Linked DNA regions of Homo sapiens: region 1 is linked to region 2. The links come from fine-mapping of genetic effects on plasma protein levels. Region 2 holds a variant in brackets. A gene starts in the other region. All regions are shown on their reverse strands. Region 1 holds the start of ENDOU (endonuclease, poly(U) specific). Region 2 has its middle 9.6 kb from the start of SEMA4B.

The links. PIP is the posterior inclusion probability: the model's chance that the variant is causal. The UK Biobank Pharma Proteomics Project read protein levels with antibody pairs (Olink). The fine-mapping took linkage between variants from a reference panel, not from the people measured, so its PIPs are less certain.
Region 1: it holds the start of ENDOU, and the variant in region 2 is fine-mapped to the plasma level of the ENDOU protein (UK Biobank, PIP 0.94).

The regions. Positions count from the first base shown.
Region 1 is chr12:47,721,627-47,732,163 of GRCh38, reverse strand. It overlaps ENDOU (endonuclease, poly(U) specific), which reads left to right and starts at 6,674. Exons shown (of 10, transcript NM_001172439.2): 1 at 6,674-6,805. The coding sequence starts at 6,751. RPAP3-DT (RPAP3 divergent transcript) reads right to left here. Exons shown (of 4, transcript NR_183480.1): 4 at 1-3,277. RefSeq lists silencers at 5,015-5,074, 6,040-6,159.
Region 2 is chr15:90,186,440-90,196,976 of GRCh38, reverse strand. It overlaps a transcript of SEMA4B not described here. Among named protein-coding and RNA genes, the nearest start is that of SEMA4B, 9.6 kb to the left of the region's middle. RefSeq lists enhancers at 4,646-4,745, 5,046-5,345, 5,546-5,635. The variant G/A (reference allele first, on the strand shown) is at 5,783.

The sequences.
Region 1 (10,537 bases), not on the chromosome of region 2:
GGAGGGAGAGCCTGCACATGCAGGCTGGACTCTGGTGGCCCACGGAGAAGGTCAGCAATCTCTGTTTCTCTTCTCCGGTTCTTGACTTTGCACCAGGCAGCTGTGGATTATCTCATCAAATAGAGCACAAGGCTCAGGAGGCTGAGCCATGGAGTTGCTGCTCTTAGCTTAGCCCCATTGCAACTTTTAGCTTCCCCCAGAGCAAAGCACTGTTCCTAAGGCTGCAGGCCACAGCCCCAGAAAACAGGTGGTTCCTTTTGGCACCAAACCAGGTGAGTTAGACAGTGCGACTCATCAAAGGGCCATCCCCAAGACTTGAAAATACCGAGGGTGCACGTTTTTTAAATGAAAATATTATCTTTGGAATTATAAAATAAATATTACATTATAGAGACTGTAGATTAGAGGAGCTGCCACCTTCTCACTATTGTCATTTTCAGAACTTTTTTTTTTTTTTTTTGAGACGGAGTCTTGCTCTGTCGCCCAGGCCGGAGTGCAGTGGCGCGATCTCAGCTCACTGAAAGCTCCACCTCCCGGGTTCATGCCATTCTCCTGCCTCAGTCTCCTGAGTAGCTGGGTCTACAGGCGCCTGCCACCACGCCCAGCTAGTTTTTTGTATTTTTAGTAGATGGAGTTTCACCATGTTAGCCAGGATGGTCTCAATCTCCTGACCTCGTGATCTGCCTGCCTTGGCCTCCCAAAGTGCTGGGATTACAGGCATGAGCCACTGCGCCCAGCCCAGAACACTTTTCTTTGTATTTTTTTTATTTTTATTTCTTGGAGACGGAGTCCTGTTCTGTTGCCCAGGCTGGAGTGCTGTGGTGAGATCTTGGCTTACTGCAATCTCCACCTCCCTGGTTCCAGCGATTCTCCTGTCTTAGCCTCCCAAGTAGCTGGGATTACAGATGTGCATCACCACGCCCAGCTACTTTTTGTATTTTTAGTAGAGATGGGTTTTCACCATGTTGGCCAGGCGGGTCTTGAACTCCTGACCTCAGGTGATCTGCCTGCCTCGGCCTCCCAAAGTGCTGGGATTACAGGCGTAAGCCACCGCGCCCAGCCACAGAACATTGTTAACATTCATTTTTCAGGCTTTTCCTAACCATCCTATCTAAATTACGCCCTTCGTGGCCCTATTTTTTTTTTTAACAACAAACATCTGGCCTTATTTATTAGGCACTGTTCTAAAACCTCTGCAAGGATTAACTTATTCAATCCTCACCATAGCCCTCTAAGGTACTCTTACTTGTTCTATTTTAGATCTACGGGGGAAATTGAGGCACAGAGGGGTCAGGGAACTTGCCCAGGATTGTACAGCTGGTGGGTGGCAGAGCTGGGATTCAAACCCAGGCAGCTTGGCTTTAGAATCAACAGTCTGAGCCTCATGTCCTGCTGCCCAGATCTGGCTGTAGACGCTCTTTATTTATGTCTTTCTTTCTCTCCAGCTGCTGAGCTGCTCACCCTTTATCCACTTTGCTTATCACAGTGTCTGGCACACAGTGGCATTCAAGTGCTATTTGTCAGGTGAATGAAGGAATGAATGAGAAAGGGGGAATTTCCCATAACCCAACTACCTTAGCACAATAATTATGGTAATTTTGACAGATTGTAGATTTCAAATCATGGGTCAGGAACCGCTCCTGCCAGTCCTGTTGTCCTGTCATCATCTTTGAGGCCAGAACAGCCCAGCTGTGCCAACATACCTGGGGCGAGAGGCAGCCCATGTTCCTCACGCCAGCGGTCAGCTGCGGGTTGGCCTCGGGCCTGTCTCTCTCTTGATCTCGCCCTTACTCACTCCCTCGCTGTCTCTCTGAACCTCCTTATCGCTGTCTGCCTGTCTTGCCCACATCTCCTTGTTCTCATTGTGCCTCTAGACCCTCTTTAAAGCCAGTGGAGTTTGAGGACATGCAATAGTAATTTTATAATCATTACTGGGCAGTGTAAAACAAACATTAGCACAGCTGGCAAAGAGTGTAGGCAGATGGTTCCTTTGGGATCCTAAAAAAGCAGGATACAGCTGAGATCTCTGTGACACTGTGGATTCAGAAACTGCTGGAACTGTCCAGTCCCTGTGGTGGCTGCCCCTTGTAGGGGTGGTGCCAAGGGTGGCTTGGGGGTTTAGGTCCTCCTAAATTTCCATTAGGCCCCAACAAATACACAATATAGCTAAAAAAAAAAAAAACCCAGTGTATTTGTTATGAAAATGCAACTTTGAGATGAGTCTCTAGACCCCACGTCCCCCCTTTGGATAAACTCTGGTGCTTCACAGCTGCCGGAGACCCATTTGCTGTCCTCTGCTTTGCTAACCATCTTCACTGAGTCTTTAATATCAAGTGGGGCTGGAAGACTGACCAGTGCCCTGATTCATTTACATATTGATTCATTGCAGGTCTCAGGCACAGGTTGATAATTATCTAACTGTTTAGATTCTAACACACATTGGATGGCAATACAAAGGGCCCATGAGGCAGGGTCCCCTTCTCAAAGAACTTCAGAGGAAAAGTTAAATGGCAGTGCAGGGGTTAACTGATACCATGTTGGCAGCAACAGATGTTGGCAGTCAGAGATGACTGTGCTGTGTCAAAGGCACACAGGACAAATATGCACAACCAAGCTCCTAGGCAGGAGAGATCCTGTGGGCTGAAGAGAGGTCAGGCTTTGTGGAAGAGTGAATTTGCCCTGGGGCCGGAGGATGAGTAGGAGCTGGACAGCTGAGCAGGGAGGGTGGGGGAGGGTGTTCCAGGCTGAGGACCAGCATGGGGTGTGGCTGGCAGAACTAGAAGTGCAGCATGGGACTATGTGATGAGTGGGCCTAGTTGGGAGGTCTGACGGATATGCTCAGCCCAGGCATTGAGTGTGATGCTGATGTCAGGGCTGCCCACAAACTTAAACAAAAGCCTGGGAACACAAACGTGGTATACACCATACTAACCAATGTGGGAAAGAAATCACACATGGAGCCGCTTCTAAGACACATTCAATAAGAGCAGACATGGGTGACCATCCTGCGCTTCTATCCTGTGGGCCAGGGCAGCACTCCCAGGAGAACCAGCATCTTCATGTGCCAGGGTCCCCTTGGGAGGTGAGTCTGGGCCTCTCCTGTGATGGGCCAGCTGCAGGGTCCTTCCACACGCAGGTCCTCTGCTGAAATGACGTGGCCTTGGTTTTGCAGGAGAACGAGGATGGTAGAATAGGCTGGCCTGGGCAGGTGTCCCTTTTAGTAGTCCTCTGGGTCAGTCTCTCTCAAGGCCTGTTGATCCTGACAGACCCCAGACACCTGTGGTAGCCCAGAGATGAATGAGGCCTACTTCAAACAATGCCCTAATGCTGAGGCTTATCTGGCTTCTGTCCCACCAGAAACCAATCAGTTCCAGGAAGAGTTTTCCAGCCTAGCCTGAACCCTGCCAGTCCAATAACAGCATAGCCCCTGATGTGTAGTGAGCACTCGATAAATATTTGGCTGATGGAATTCCCACCCTCTATGTCTCTCACAGCTGAGTGCCTCCCAAATCCTTGCCCAAGCAGCCTCACCCTCTTCCCCACTCTCCAGACCTCCACAGAGGACACAACTGCACCATCTCTGTCGCTATTCTCATCATTGAGACACCATCCACCATGCATCTCCCTCCACTCTCTCCCTACCCCAGCTCTCCAGGACCCAGCCTACCACAATTCCCAACTTGCTGGCTGGTCCCACTGTGGCTTCTTGGGAAGTCTGCAAGGATGGAAAGCCCATGTGAGTACCTAATGGCGGGGGGTACTCAGAAAGAGGAGCCGCAGAGTTCTTGGTCCACAACAGGCTAGCAGGGAAGAGAAAGCTGCCTGAAATCTATCTTAATGTATCTCTCTCTCTCTCTCTCTCTCTCTCTCTCTCTTTTTGTGTGTGTGTGTGTGTGTGTGTGTGTGTGTGTATACACACATACATGGACATCTAAGTTTATGAGGCATCTTTGCATGAATATGTATTGATATATTTTCATTTATTGGCTTAATGGATTTTTTCTGCCTTTGTCAGCATGTCTTCGGTTATAAAATCTGGGGTTTGGGAATCCGATCTGCGAAGAGGGCGTATGAGCAGCCGTGGGAGGGCATATCCCAATTCCCCACCCCTCAACCCTCAGCACCAGAGGCAATGAAGGAGAGGCAGGACAAGCACTTAGGGTTGTTTAGGGAGTTGTGACATCCTATGAGAAGTGGAACTAGATGGCAGTTGAGGTCCCTTTAATTCCAGTGAATTTAAATCTAGACTGCTTTGTATAGTAACCAGACATGATTAAGTGGTCGTTCAAAGTGTGATGTTGTGGGGCAATGGAGCAACGGTGCTTATGAGAATGACCCCTGGTCAGATGGATCTGGGTTGAGGCACAGCTGCATAACTTAATGATTGTGTGCTTCTGGGCACGTCTCCTAACCTTTCTGTGCCTCAGTTTCTTCATCTGTAAAATGAGGACAGCAATAGTACCTATTAAGGTTGTAGTGAGAATCAATGAGATAACACATATGATAACACACGTGGTAAGTGCTCAGTCAATGTTGCTGGTGGTTGTTAAGGCTGTTATTCTTATTGAAGGATGCAGTTTTAAACACTTGGGTACTCAGATGAACCATCTGGCTCTATGGAGTCATCCTTAACTGTCTTCCCCAGCTCCAATCCTTGCTCCTGACCTAAAATTCCATTAATGGGGGGAGAGCTCCTGCCCTCAAAACACCATCCCATGGCCAGTTCAGCTGGACACTAGGAGAACCTAGCCAGGCTGTACTCCACTCTGACAGCTTTGGCTTCAGCTAGGGTCCACCCAGCTGGACACTTGGAAGGGACAGACCATTCATTCCCAAATTCTGAGGCATCATTGCTTCCCAGGCCAGCCAGTGACACCCTCCTTTGTCCCCTAAACAACAGGAGTCAGAGACACGTTTATGTGGTGCCAACCCAGGGAGGATGAGGATTCTGAGGGGCAGTGACTCTTCAGCCTGCTTTTGGATTGTGTAAATGAAATCTATGCAAATGAAGCAGCCATTTCTGCTCTTACTCATTCTAACCAGCTCCCTTCTGGGAGAGAAGGGCTAGGCTCACTCTTTAGTTGTGCTTCCGGGCTGGATGCAGTGGCTCACACCTGTAATCCCAGCACTTTGGGAGGCCAAGGTGGGCAGATCACCTGAGGTCAAGAGTTTGAGATCAGGTTGGCCAACATGGTCTCTACTAAAAATACAAAAATTAGCCAGGTGTGGTGGTGCATGCCTATAATCCCAGCTACTCGGGAGGCTGAGGCATGAGAATTGCTTGAGCTGGGGAGATGGAGGTTGCAGTGAGCCGAGATCACACTGCTGCACTCCAGCCTGGGCGACAGAGAGAGAGATTCCATCTCAAAATATATACATACATTGCACTTCCTGTGTGAGCCCCTTGCAAAGTTTGCTTGCCCTAGGCTTGTCCTTCTCTCTACCCCTGAGTCCCTATGTTTGGACTCCTCTCTACACAGCAACAGGCTGGGGGATTCTCTTTAACCCACCAGCAACTGTTCAACCTGGCGCATGGGCAGGAAAACTCGAGATTAAAGTCTGAGAACCTGGAAGGGATTGTCAGATCCAACCCCATCATTTCAGATGAGAAAGCTGAAGACCAGCGAGAGGAAGAAACTTCTCCTGTTAAAGCACACTGGATGAAGACGTGCTCCACTCCCAACCTCCAGAAAAAAATCACTGATAGAGTGGCCTCCACTGTTCACCAATTTTGCCTTTTTATATGATAGTTTTCTTTCCTGAGAGGGTTGAGAATCCCCATGCAGTGCTCTTTCTGGCAAGGGCATCATACTTGGCAGATTTTACCTTTATTATCGGGGAAAACTGGACAGTCACGGGGAGCTGCTCCCCTTCTTTTGGACTTGGAAACAAAAGAACCTCACTGGGGAGGAGTTCCTGAGGAGAGGAGTGTAAGTTGGGGTGAAGGGAGTGAAACCCTGGGCTCCCAGGGGAAGAAGAGTGGGCCTTCGGCTGCCTTTAAGAGGCCTCTTGCCCCTCCCCTGCCTCATAAGGAATCTGAAACGTTTAAACCCCAGAGGCTGACTCAGTAAGAGTCATTTGCATAATATTTTAGAGTGATTTAGCCATGCGCTCGACATGTGGCTGATTTAGCTATGCTGGGCTTGGTGGTCATAAGAATAGCACTGGTTCTGACCGACACATCCTCTATCTCTCTGTCCAATGACCCCAACCCTTGCTTGGGCACTTACTGTTTGTCAAATTTGGACCAATCACCTTACTGTGTGCCAGTGTCATGCTAAGCTCCAGGAATTTGAAGATGAATCCAACCTGTGGCCCCTTGGAAAGTCAGGTCTGAGACTTGGAAGTAGGTGTCTGTTTGGTGGGGATCACCCAAAGATCAGCCCATGGGTGTCCCTAATTTGGACAAAGAACCCTCCAAACTGGACCCATCTTGGTGTGCCTGCCTGCATGACCTATTTTTTAAGCTGCAAACAGCTAGCATTACCTGTTCTCAACATCTGGCATTACCTACCTTCTTAGTCACCTTCCCTCAGGCTTCAAACAGCTGTAGGGCCCCACCTCCTATCCATCTAGGGTCCCTCCCTCCCCTTTTTCTTCCTGAAAGGATCTGGAGACACCAGCTCCACAAGTCCTGGTGTCTTTAAAAGGATCAGCTTGAGGAATAAGGCTCGTCTGAGAGCTGTGACATTCATCTGACTCTAGTGAAAGTCCAACAGCCACTCCCTTTTTGGCCTCCAACTGGGCACCATGAGGGCCTGCATCTCCCTGGTATTGGCCGTGCTGTGTGGCCTGGCCTGGGCTGGTAAGTCACTATCTGGCGGGCATGGGATTGCTGGTGGGGCGGGATCTTGCCTAAAGAAGCAGAGAGTTGGAGAACTTGGTAGAGGGCAGGGCCGTGGGACAAGGGAGGGTGAGCTCTGTCCTAAAGCCGCAGAGCACTTTTGGGTTGTCCTTGTCTGAGGGTGCAGGCGTTGGTCCCGGAATGGACTGGACTATGTGGAGAGAGTTGCAGGGCTGATGGTCTGATTTCATGGAATTCCCTTCTTGACACCTTGGAGGATCAGCCCCAAATATCCCTTAGTCCAGCCTGACTTTTGATCTCCCCAAGATTTTGTTGTCTGGGGCCACTGTAAGGAATAAAGCTAGGGCTGGTGTCCATGGGGTCTGAGTGGCCTGGCTGCCCTTGGTCACTCCTTCCACTGCCTGGTGACAGGTGAGGTTGTTTAGGGTGTGATGTTACTTTGGGTAGAGCCTTAGGAGGTGGGCAGGCTTAGGAGGAAACTGAAAGGACCTTTGACCAGGAGGTGGGCCTCGTCCTATCTGGGGCTGTACAGGGGTCAGAGGAATGGATCTCTGTTGCAGTGTTAGGAGAATTGAAGAATACAGAAGGGACCTGGCCCACAGTTATGAGAGGTCCAGGGGATGGGACTGGCAGAGGAACAGGACCATGTTCCTGTTTAGTAACTGTGCAAAATGCTGGTGCTGATGGGTTAATTGGTAGCTAGTGGGTGGGTGGGAAGGAGTGCCAAGGGAGGGGCTGAGCTGAGGAGTGTGGGGAGAATCCTCCTCTGCCCACAGGAGAAAGAATCCTTCCACTGGGTTGCTCCTGTGTAGGACTGTGGAAAGGATTAAATGAAATAATGTATGAGAAGCACCTGGTGCAAAGTGAGATCTCAGTGAACTGGAAATTCGCTATGATTATGACTATAAATTTTCTTGGGAGAAACTTCCGCTTGGGGTCATTTCCAACTGGGTTGTGGAAAGGAGACCCTTATGGGATTTCTAAGTGGAAAACCCCTGGAAGAGGAAGTTGTGCCTCCCAACCATGGATGAGATAGTGCATCTTACCAGAAACCAGCTCTGCCTGGGCCCTAGTGGGTGGAGAGGCAGTGGGAGAGCATGAGGGTGGGCCTGGGAGCCACCAGCCTCAGCCCTGTTGGTTGGGAGGAAGGTGGAACTTGGGGGCTTAATGTGTAGGGGTGGCCAGCGGGCTTGGCATATTCCAGCCTTAGGGAAGGAGAGCAACTCTGGATATTTGGTCCCTGGGGGGCAGAGGTAGCAGTGGCTTTAGAAGTGCAGGTGGAGCTCTTGCTGCTAGGTCGGAGGGCAGTATCTGCTTTGGCTGTGGGATCGATGGGGAAGTGAGGTCAAGTGTATGAGGCTTCCTAAGGTGGCAGGGAAGAGGCTCTGCACTTGTTGATACTATCCCAACATCTCAGAACTGAGAGGCAAGAATATGAATCACATGGGGAATCACTGACAGCCTCAGGTCCTCCTTTATGAGCTGGATGTCTGTGGAGAACCTTGGTTGATTTTTTTGGTTGTGAATGGAGGCAGGAAGCTAGTCCAAGGGGTGAGGCTTCTTGGTTGACTAGGTCTCCATGGAAACAGCATCTGGGGCCTTCTAACGGTACAGATGTGTAGGATGTCCCAGTCATCAGAGGGGCTGAGCACCAGTGTACAGGGACACTGTGTCCACCCAGGCTTGGGACCAAGCTTCCTTGATGGCCAGTATGGATAGGGAGTGGCTGTTCTGGCATATTGAAGTCTTAGAAAGTGCAGAGAAATTGAGCATTTCTTGGGGGAATGGAGGGAGAATCTGAACCCGAGAGAGGAAAGGCTCAGATGAAGAAAGGCAGAGAGTCAGAGAGGTGAGGCAGAGGAACAAGAGGCACAGGTTACTACAGCAGTGATTCAGGCACCTGGCTTGGGGAGCAAGGCTTACTCAGAGTGTTGGTGTTAATGGTGCAGTGTGGGGATGCTGGAGTGAGTTGTTAGGGTGACTAGTTACTCATCAGAGTGTCCCCAGAATGTCACAGCAAAGTGCCTATGAGGAAAAGTTCCTCCCACCCCTGCACTCCACTGTCAAATCCCAAGGTCACCTTGAAGCAGACTAAGTGCACAGAGAAATGTGAGAAAGTGCTGGCATGGGGCTCTTGCTGGAGACAAAGTTCTTGAGCAGAGATGAAAAAGCCCACTCAGCTTGGGCCGGCGGGGGTGCTCTCCTGCACGTCCAGCTGACTGCTCGCTTGCAACCCTTCTCAACTGGTGCCAGCTGCTGGAATGAAGTGAATTCTTTCCCTGGACTCTGCTGATTTGGCCCATTAAAAACATTGCCCTGATTTGCCTGAATTCTCTCCCTTTGGATTCTGGGTGTACTGCCAGGCTGACTGAGCAGGGAGCTGATGGGCTGAAAATTTCTCCTTAAGGTCTTTGCATTCAGGCTCCAAGGGAGCATCATTTAACATTCAAGAGGAGTTCCTGCCGGCTTGAAGGAACAAGTGGCCTTGGGCCTGGTCTCTTTTAGGGACTGGAAACCTGCCTTCCTGCCCACCTTGGAGGCCTGACAATGTGAAGTTGTCTGAGGACCCGGGTTAACCTTGACCCAATGCCTCTCTGATGTAAAGAATACAGACCTGTAGTGATGAAGTCAGCCAGGAAACCAGCAACACAGATGTGCTGACAACCCAGCCCAAGGGATGGCCCTGTTGAAACCCTGGGAGAGTGTCAGCTAGATTAAGTGTGTCGACGGGGCCACAACACAGGGAAGACTGCTCCAGCCAGTCTGAACACTTGTCACTTGGAAGATGGGCATGAAATATTGCCACCGTTTATTCACCTAACAAATACTTCTATGGTACTACTATGTGTCACTTGCTGTCCTAAGTGCTTTACATATATTAACTCATTTAATTCTTACAAATATTCTATGAGATAGGCTCCATTATCATCCCACTTTTACAGATACGAAAACCAACGCACAGAAGTTCAAATAACTTGCCCAAGATCACATAGCTAGAAAGCAGTAGAACCAGAATTCCAGCCTCAAGCAGTTTGGCGCCAGAGTCTAGGTTCTTGACCTCTCTGCTATGCTGTCCCTCATTAGACAAAGTATCAACCTTAATCCCAGAATCCAATACTAGGGACTGGTAACCAAACCCAACCTCTAATATTTAAGCTCTAACCCACTCCAGGCTTAAATTAAGATACTACACCTGTATTGAATCATAACCAGAACCAAGCCCCCAAACAAAACAGGGATTATTCATCTTTTTCTCATCCTGACACATTCCTCAACCCCGAATGTCATCTTAAGTCTATTCCTATTCCTTACCCAAATATCAATACAAAATTGTTAATTTATCAACTAATTTAACTCAAGCCCAAATCCTAACTGTAGTTCTTAACCTAACTAACCCCAACCCTGGTCCAAATTAGGTTTCAGTTTCCTCACTGATACAAATTCTGATGCTGATGGTAACTCTGACTCTGATCTTGACATTCTCTGTAACCCACAGTATGACCTCTGAACCCAGCGTTCGTGAAATCCAAACCTCAGGAACCTCAAATCGAACAAAGACTCTGTTATCACCCTTAAAGCCCAGAGTGGATAGTGGGTTTCCACTGTTCCTTCAAAATGTCTTGTCTTATGTCCCTTGCGACCAAAAGCTTGCTTCTGCAAACCATTTGGCTGCAGTGGGGGATGTGGTCTGTGGTTACATAATAGAATGCTATGCCAGAGCCCAATTCTCAC
Region 2 (10,537 bases):
CCATGTCCAAAGGACATCGGAACCAGCTTGATGACCAATCTGAGCATTAAAACATAATGAAGTAATGGATTAATACATTAAATTTAAAAACAATCCATTAGTCCACAGTGAAACCCAGAGAGAGAGAAAAAATAAGGGGTGAAAAGGAAGCTTTTCTTTACCAAAAAATGCTGGTTAATAATGTAGAAGAGGCCGGGTGCAGTGGCTCACGCCTGTAATCCCAGCACTTTGGGAGGCTGAGGCGGGCGGATCACGAGGTCAGGAGATCGAGACCATCCTGGCTAACATGGTGAAACCCCGTCTCTATTAAAAATACAAAAAAATTAGCTGGGCGTGGTGGCACGCACCTGTAGTCCCAGCTACTCGGGAGGCTGAGGCAGGAGAATCTCTTGAACTCAAGAGGCGGAGGTTGCAGTGATCCGAGATCACGCCACTGCACTCCAGCCTGACCGACAGCGAGACTCTGTCTCAAAAAAAAAGTAGAAGAAATGGTGATAGAATTAGAAAATCTAGATTCAAGTAAGAATCATCAGTGGATGGGAAACCATTGGGTGGAAGATTGTTACGAAACTATATGTTAACAAGGTCTGTCCCACAGATGACTTACTAATTACCAAAGGGAACATTTATCTCTAAGGGAGAGATCTCGGGGCCTCAATCTTAACCAATTAGACAAAAGTAGCATCATAGTAATGGGACTATTTGACGTAATTTTCCTCCTGATATGATGCAATAAGAAGTACAAAACAGGCTAAGCCCAGCAGCTCACGCCTGGAATCCCAGCACTTTGGGAGGCCGAGGCGGGCGGATCACGAGGTCAGGAGATCGAGACCATCCTGGCTAACACGGTGAAACCCCGTCTCTACTAAAAATACAAAAAAAAAAAAAAATTAGCCAGGCATGGTGGCGGGCGCCTGTAGTCCCAGCTACTTGGGAGGCTGAGGCAGGAGAATGTCGTGAACCCAGGAGGCAGAGCTCGCAGTGAGCCGAGATCGCGCCACTGCACTCCAGCCTGGTGACAGAGCGAGACTCCGTCTCGAAAAAAAAAAAAAGAGAAGTACAAAACAGGCTGGGCCCAGCAGCTCACGCCTGGAATCCTAGCATTTTGGGATGCCGAGGCAGGCAGACTGCCTGAGCTCAGGGGTTCGGGACCAACCTGGGCAACACGGCAAAACTCCGTCTCTACAAAAATTACAAAAATTAGCCAGGTATGGTGGCGCATGCCTGTAGTCCCAGCTACTTCGGGGGGTGAGGCAGGAGGACTGCTTGAACCTAGGAGGTCAAGGGTGCAGTGAGCTGAGATCACGCCACTGCTCTCCAGCCTGGGTGACAAAGTGAGACCCTGTCTCAAAAAAAGAAAAAACAACAAGTACAAAACATCATCAATGTTTGCAGCATTCTTCTCAAAGGTGTGTTGTAACCCAGATCTAACAATGAAAACACAATCAGACCCATCCAGCATGAGTAGTATTCTACAAGACAACTAGCCTGGACTCTTCAGAAAGGGCAATCTAGTGAGAGGCAAAACAGACAGGGGTGGGGCTGTTTTAGGTTAAGGGACTAAAAAGACATAATAATCAAATGCAGCGAGGCGAGGTGGCTGACACCTGTAATCCCAGCACTTCGGGAGGCCAAGGCAGGTGGATCACTTGAGCCCAGAAGTTCAAGACCATCCTGGGCAACAGGGTGAAACTGGTCTCTACAAAAAATACAAAATTACTCAGGCATGGTGGTGCGCACCTGTAGTCCCAGCTACTTGAAAGGCTGAGGTGGGAGGATCACCTAAGCCCAGGAGGTCAAAGCTGCAGGGAGCCATGCTGTTGCACTCCAGCCTAAGAGACAGAATGAGACCCTGTCTAAAAAAAAACAAACAAAATCAATAGCAACGTGTGAACCTTGATTGAAGATTGAATGTTGGAAAAAAAAAAAAAGCCATGGAGCAATTGGGGAAATTTTAATATGGACTGTGTATTAGATGATATTATGGCATTCTTCATTTTTTTAGCTATGATAATGGCATTTCTCAGATGTGATTAAGTCCTGGTCTTTCAGAGACACCTGCTGAAGCTTTACAGTTGAAATGTCACGATGTCTACAACTTACTTTCAAATGATTCAGCAAAAACAAATGTGCATATATATGTATGTGCATGTACTAGAGAGAAAGAACATGAATGTGACTGGCAAAAACTGGTCAATATAGGTGAAGAGTTATTGGGTGTTTTTGTACTAATCTTTCCATTTAAAATTTTGAGTGATTAAACAAAAATGGGTGACAGCCAGGCACGGTGGCTCACACCTATAATCCCAGCACTTTGGGAGCCTGAAAATAAGTAAGTAAATAAATAAATGGGTGAGACAGAGTCACAAACGGAGCCCAATGGCACGCCACTAGAGACCTCCATCAAGGTTAGAACAGATCAATATGTTTTTTGTTTTTTTTTTGAGATGGTGTTTCACTCTTGTTGCCCAGGCTGGAGTGCAATGGCATGATATCAGCTCACTGCAACCTCTGCCTCGTGGGTTCAAGCGATTCTCCTGCCTCAGCCTCCCGAGTAGCTGGGATTACAAACATGCGCCACCACGCCCGGCTAATTTTGTATTTTTAGTAGAGACGAGGTTTCACCATGTTGGTCACGGCTGGTCTCGAACTTTTGACCTCAGGTGAGCCACCTGCCTTGGCCTCCCAAAGTACTGGGATTACAGGTGTGAGCCACCACGCCTGGCCTGATCAATATCTTTTATAGGCTGAACAACTAGCTATGTGTCCTCCTAACTGCACTGTTCAGCCCACATTTCTCCATATTATCCATAAGACTATTATGGGCTGAAAGCAGTGGCTCATTGCCCGTAATCTGAGCACTTTAGGAGGCTGAGGTGGGCGCATCACCTGAGGTCAGGAGTTCGAAACCAGCCTGGCCAACATGATGAAACGCTGTCTCTACTAAAAATATGAAAATTAGCCGGGCGTGGTGGTGCACACCTATAATCCCAGCTACTCAGGAGGCTGAGGCAGGAGAATCGCTTGAACCCGGGAGACAGAGGTTGTAGTGAGCCAAGATGGCGCCACTGTGCTCCAGCCTGGGCACAAGAGTGAAACTCCGTCCCCCCGACCAACCCAAAAAAAAAAAAAGAATATTATGAAAAAGATTGCAAGAAATCTTGTCAAAGTCAAGGTACTAGCTACATTTCCTTCTTCTACCTTCTGCCTACTGCACTCACCTAGAACAGTACCTGATGTTGGCCACATGCTCAATCACTATTTGTTGAGTCCCTGAATCTCCACATCAAGCAGATCCTAAAATGGCAGTGGGGCTGCTTTGCCCTGGTGTCTTGGCAACACATGAGTTGTGTGACTGCTGTGCTCATCTCAGAGCAGAGGAGACAGGGGCTGATGCGGCCTCACTAAGCGGATAATCATATCCTGCTCAAATGCTTCCAATATGTCTTATGTCGACTGGGCAGCAAGTCCTTTGAGGACAGTGACAGGACTTCCATCTTCCAAATCCCCACTGCCTTGCATGGCACTCTAGTAGGAACTCCACAGGGCTGACAAAATGAGGGTCCCAGCTGTCAGCCTGGAGAAGAGCCCTCGAATCCACGCCCCCAGCACAGCAGCTTTGGTCTTTGCGGGCTCCCCTTTCTTCCGTTAGTGTGCTGATGTGTTCTCCCCAGACTAGAAACCACACGAGGACACTGACAGAGAAAAATCTCCTGTGAGCAGACTTCCTGCGAGCGGGAGCGGTTCCCAAGCCAACGATGTGTCTCCTGTTCCCCTTTGCCACTCTTGGATGTTGGCGAGTCTTTCTCAGCCAGAATGCCAGTGTTTATAAAGAGCTCAGGAGGCAGCTTGGAAAGGGAGTACCAAAATAAGAGACGAAGAGAAAAGCACTGCTTCCTCCGTGCCTTGGCCAGCAAAATGAAGTCATCATCAAAGCTGGCCTCTTCTCCATCCACACTCACACGCTCTGGCACCTCCTCCCCATGGACCTTCCTCATTTTTCTCTCTCTCATACACACACACATACATACACAAGGACAGAAGCACAAGAATGTGTATAGGAATCCATTATAAAGAGGCCGAAACGAGGCCAGGCGCAGTGGCTCATGCCTGTAACCCCAGCACTTTGGGAGGCCAAGGCGGGAGGATCACAAGGTCAGGAGTTTGAGACCAGCCTGGCCAATATGGCAAAACCCCATCTCTACTAAAAGTACAAAAATTAGCCAGGCATGGTGGCGTGAGGCTGTAATCCCTGCTACTCGGGAGGCTGAGGCAGGAGAATTGCTTGAACCCAGGAGGCGGAGGCTGCAGTGAGCCAAGATCGTGCCACTGCACTCCAGCCTGGGTGACAAGAGCAAGATTCCATCTCAAAAAAAAAAAAAAAAAAAAAGCTACAAGGGAAAGAAAATAAAGGGAAGCATGGCTAAAAGTAAAAAGCAAATGAACACACATCCCTGCTGCTTCTCTACCCTGCCCAGTACAAAGGGAACAGATGCAGGGCAAGTGCCAGCAGTGTCCAGGCTACATCTGGCCTCCCAAGTGATCAATACCCATTAATCATCCATGGGTACAGCCTCTGCCCAGCTGCATGCAGGCCATGTCCTTGGGCATGGATGGTCCCTGCCAGGCGGCTCCTGGCCAGGTCTGCCTGCTCTAATTCCCACCCAGGGGAACCTGGCTCTGGAGCTCCCACAGTTCTACTCTGGGAGTTGTTGCTTTGTTTGCTGGCTGTGGGGGAGGGGCCTCCTGCCAAGCCCAGTGGAGCTTGAACCCAAAGGTCCCACCCGCCCCCTCCTGGGGTAGCACTCAAGCTCCTCCCCATTCTCGGGTGCTGACTGGCAGGCTGCCCAGCAAGGCCTCGCAGACATACACTGGCTGCAGCCCAGCTCTCCAGGCCTTGGCCCCCCACCACCATCCCCTTGTAGCCCTGAGCTCTCCTCTTATGCCAACCTGCAGCTGCAGCTCTCCACCCTGCCCTGGCTGGGCATGCTGCTGGTGTCTTCTCCCCAGGGGCTGGGCAGCAGCTCAGCTGCAGCATCAGTACATGTTGAAGAGGAAGCGACACCAGCTGGCACACCCTGTGTATTCTTTCAAATCAGCCAATGGCTGCCAAGTCCTCAGGGCTGGGAGCTTCCTTGGGGCAGCGCCTTCTGCAGCAGAGGGCATCCACCCCGGGTCAGCACTTACACTGCCTTCAAAACTCACTGGCAGCTTTTACCCAGGGTCTGGCAACAGATGTAAATAAATGGCTTCATCTCCGTTCCCCAAACCATTTTCCCCGCTACCGGCCTCTTGTTTTTCTTGCTCCTGGAAGTGGTAGAATCCAGTGGTTGAGCACACAGGTTCTTCTGTCAGAAGAATTCACTACCTTCCATATTTTGTGGACTTTTAGCAAGCCACACAATCACTCTGAACCTCAGCTTCTTCATCTAGGACGGAGTGCTATGAACAGCACTTCATGGGTGGCTGGAGAGAGTACATATAAAGCCACGGGCAACACTGGCATGTAGTGAATGCTCAGTGAGCAAGGCCATGCCTGCTATGTTATTGGTTCACCTCCCCATGAAAGTTGCCCCATGGCGTCAACAACTCTGAAGTATCTTAGATGCCCATCTCTGAGGACCCCCTTCTGGGTACTCCCTCAAGTTCAGCCACCTCCTGCAAAGCTGGTGCTGAGGCTGCAACTCTCATGGGGAGAAAGAACCGGCCCGCCCAGCCCAAGTCCCAGGTGCGTCCGCTGTGGTGAGGAGCCTGACACCCAGCACCACCCCCACTGGGGCCT[G/A]TTGGGGCCTGAGCTGGCCACTCCCTGGGAGGGGATCCCTCCGCCCCACAGGGCTGTGGGGCAATCAGCAGGGCTCAACCTGTCCCTGCCCTGACAGGGTAGAACATGAAGTTGCCACTGTCACTCCTCTGCTCCCCCAATATGAGTTCAGGAGGCGCTGTCTGCCTCTGCTTTTGCACCCACTCGCCTGTCCAGGGGAGACCAGATGGGCAACATAGGAAGACCCGGTCTCTACAAAAAATAAATTAAAAATTAGCCAGGTGTGGTGGTGTGCTCCTGTGGTCCCAGCTACTTGGAAGGTTGAGGTGCAAGGATCACTTGAACCTGAGAGGTAGAGGCTGCAATGAGTCACGATGGTACCTCCAGCTTGGGTGACAGAGCAAGACACTGACACACACACATACACACACATGCACACAGAGCAAGACACTGACACAGACACAGAGCAAGACACACACAGACACACACAGACACACACCCTGGTTCCAAAGATCCCATGAAGTGAGGAATCTACCTCCCCATTTGCTATCGAGTTATTCCCTCTAAAATCCCAGTCTGAGCACCAGACCCCTGTGAGGGGAAAAAGGAACAGGCCAGGGCCCTCCCTCCACCTCAGGAAACCAACCTTCCTTCCCAAAGGCCCAAGGCTCTCCCCTCTGCCTCTTCCTTCCCAGGGAGGAGGAGCTCTCTGACCCTGGAGTTTCCCCATCACCTCAGGTCACCTGGTGGCTGCCACTCTTACTCCCAGACAGAGCCTTGCTCTTGGTTCTGATGCTGATCCCAGAGAGTGGGCAGGAACAGGTATGCCTAGGTGGGTAGCGGGGATGCACAGACGGGTTGCCACGGATCTCCTAAGGCTCTGTAGGCTGTACTCTCACCCTGCTTTGCCAGGGTGGAGGTTCTGAGGAATGCACCACCTGTGGCAGTGTGCCCACTTGCCACCCTAAAGCAGTGGTATTAGGAGACAACACTCACAGAAAGCTGATGTGAGGGTGGCACCAAAGATCCATGCCTGGATAGGAATCTCACACAGCAGCCACCCTGCAGCACCATTTATGCACTGTGAATGAGGGTCCGGCTGGTGGGCACCACACCAGGGACTCTGGAGCCCACAAGGTTCTGAGTGAGCCCCAGCTTGGCCCTAGCAGGAGAGTGGGCTCTAAGAGGACGCACCCACGGGGCCACATGTGCTTATCTCTAGCCGTCTCATCTTTTGGTTTCCACAAACCCCTTGAAAGACGGCTGACCCTGCTTGCTCCTCCCAGCCACCTCTTCTATGAATGCTGCCTGAGTTCTTTCACTATAGCCTGTGAGCAGTGCAGCAGAGCAGGGACCCCCTTCACCACACGGGTGGGCTTCAGGGAGCTGTGAACGCCAAGAATGAGATGCCATTTCAGGAGAGAGGGAATCAGAGCTTTCATTTAATTTCAAAAGCTCCTTGCTACCAGCCCCCACTCCCCGCCAAAAAAAGTAAAGAACCATTTCTCTAAGGTGCGTTAGTCTGCAGACACAAGGAACTTTCAAAATTAGCCTTTATCAGAAAAAAAGAAATTATACCTCAGTTTGGAATAGTTATATAACCTTGACATGAAATATTTGGCAAATTCTTTCCAGCTACATCAAAGTTGACATTTATATAGCTAATTAATATTTATTGAGCACCTACTATAAGTGAGGATTGTGCCAAATTTTTACATTCAATCATTTACTTAATTCTCACTACAGGGTGAGATATCAGTTATTATTGCCATTTCAGAAGTGAGAAATTGGGGCATAGAGAGGTTCCAGGACTTACTAAGGTCACACAAGTGACAAGTCAGGACTAGGACCACAACTCAGATCTGCTGACTCCAGAACCCATATGGATATTCAACCTATAGTCAGAAATCAACCACGTTTTGTCTCAAGTTATAGCCATCCACCTCTTCTGATAATATAAGCCAATGTTTATCCTTCCTTCTTTCCTTCCCTCCCTCCTTCCTACCTTTTCTTCCTTCCTTCACTTCTCTCCTCTCCCTTCCTTCCCTTTTCTTCCTGCCCTCGCTCACTTCCTCCTTTTCCTTCCTCCCCCCCACTTCCTTCTTTCATTCATGCAACACATATTTCTTGTGCACTTGCTGCCTTCTAAGTATTGCTCAAGTTTAAGGAAACTGACGTGGTTGCTGCCTTCACAGAGCTTAGTTTATCAGGATCCTTTAAACTGTTCTTTCAGAGAATATTCATCCTGGCTGGGCGCGGTGGCTCATGCCTATAATCCCAGCACTTTGGGAGGCTGAGGCGGGCGGATCACGAGGTCAGGAGATCGTAGACCATCCTGGCTAACATGGTGAAACCCCGTCTCTACTAAAAATACAAAAAAATTAGCCGGGCGTGGTGGTGGGTGCCTGTAGTCCCAGCTACTCGGGAGGCTGAGGCAGAAGAATGGCATGAATCCGGGGGGCGGAGCTTGCAGTGAGCCGAGATAGCGCCACTGCACCCAGAGTGAGCGAGACTCTGTCTCAAAAAACAAACAAAAAAAGACAATACGTATCCTGATCTACATTTATTTTTATTTATTTATTTATTTTGAGACGGAGTCTTGTTCTGTCGTCCAGGCTGGAGTGCAGTGGTGCGATCTCGGCTCACTGCAGCCTCCGCCTCCCAGGTTCCAGCAACTCTCCTGCTTCAGCCTCCCGGGTAGCTGGGATTACAGGCATGCGCCACCATGCCTGGCTAATTTTTGTATTTTTAGTAGAGACAGGGTTTCACCATGTTGGCCAGCCTGGTCTTGAACCCCTGACCTCAGGTGATCCGCCCACCTCGGCCTCCCAAAATGCTAGGATTACAGGCATAAGCCACCTCGCCTGGCTACTTTTATTTTATTTTATTTTTGAGACAGTGTCTCACTGTGCCACCCAAGCTGGAATGCAGTGGCAGGATGATTGATGGCTCACTGAAGCCTCAACCTCCCTTGGCTCAGGTGATCCTTCTACCTCAGCGCCCTGGATAGCTGACACTACAGGCATGGGCCACCATGCTCGGCTAATTTTTGTATTTTTTGTAGAGACTGAGTTTCACCATGTTGCCCAGGCTGGTCTCGAACTCCTGGACTCAAGCGATCCACCCACCTTGGCCTCCCAAAGTGCTGGGATTACAGGCATGAGCCACCATGCCTGACCCACGTTTCTTTTCTTTCTTTTTTTTTTTTTTTGAGATGGAGTCTCATTCTGTCACCCAGGCTGGAGTGCAATGGCATGATCTCAGCTCACTGCAACCTCCGCCTCCTGGGTTCAAGCGATTCTCTTGCCTCAGCCTCCTGAGTAGCTGGGATTACAGGCATGCACCACCATGCCCGGCTAATTTTTGTATTTTTAGTAGAGACAAGATTTCACCATATTGGTCAGGCTGGTCTCAATCTCCTGACCTCGTGATCTGCCTGCCTCGGCCTCCCAAAATGCTGGGATTACAGGCGTGGGTCACTGCACCCAGCCCCCACCTTTCTTTAGACACTTTCACTCCCTTATGCTTTGTTTCCAACAAAGGTAGTGGCCACGGCCAACTTGGCAGAGTTCTAGAAGTGCTCCCAGGCTAGAATCCTGCTGTTTTCAACTAATTTCCAGAGTTGCTCCTGCGAGTTCCCTCTGCACTCTGCTCAGATTCTTATTAGGACCTCATTATGCTGCAGTGAAATACTCACTTACACATCACATCCCTCTCTTCCCTTCTCTTCTACAAGCTCCTTGAATGCAGGGACAAGGCCTGCCTAACTCAGCTTTTTCATCTCCAGCCCCAGGACAGAACATGGAAACAGCAGGTACCCAGCAAATGTCTTCTGCTCTAGCTGTCTCAAATCATTTCCAAAGGATTCATTCACGTTTTCCTTCCTGGATCTTTTCCCCCACTTTTCTGTTATCCCTTTCAAAGGAAACAGCACCACACGGATAGAGGCAGGACTAGAGTCCCATTTCCCTGCTTTAGGGAAGCTAAACAGTTTTCTTGCTTAGCTCCAGGCTCACCAGCTTTGCTGGCTTCAGAAGAGATGGTATTTTGGAGAGTGGCTGAATGCTTGGCTCCCAGGGACTTACTTTGGACCATCCTGTCCAATGTAGTCAGATACTACATTAAAGCAAGAGCCTCAAGGCACAAGACCCATGCAGCGGGGAGACTCAGCTCTCCCCAAGGCACAAGTCTCCGTTTCCCATCTTTAGTTCAACTGTTGCCAATGTCCCCAATCTTTATTTATTTTATTTTTATTTTTTTGTTTTTTATTATTATTATTTTTTGAGACGGAGTCTTGCTCTGTCGCCCAGGCTGGAGTGCAGTGGTGCAATCTCGGCTCACTGCAAGCTCCGCCTCGCGGGTTCACACCATTCTTCTGTCTCAGCCTCGCGAGTAGCTGGGACTACAGGCGCCCACCACCACGTCTGGCTAATTTTTTGTATTTTTAGTAGAGACGGGGTTTCACTGTGTTAGCCAGGATGGTCTTGATCTCCTGACCTCTCCGCCCATCTCGGCCTCCCAAAGTGCTGGGATTACAGGCGTGAGCCACCGTGCCTGGCCTTTATTTTTATTATTTTATTTTTTGTTTGCTTTTTGAGATGGAGTTTCACTCTTGTTGTCCAGGCTGGAATGCAATCACAATCTCGGCTGGCTCAGGGAACCTCCGCCTCCCAGATTCAAGCGATTCTCCTGCCTCAGCCTCCCAAGTCGCTGCGATTACAGGCATGCGCCACCATGCCCAGCTAATTTTGTGTTTTTACTAGAGACGAGGTTTCA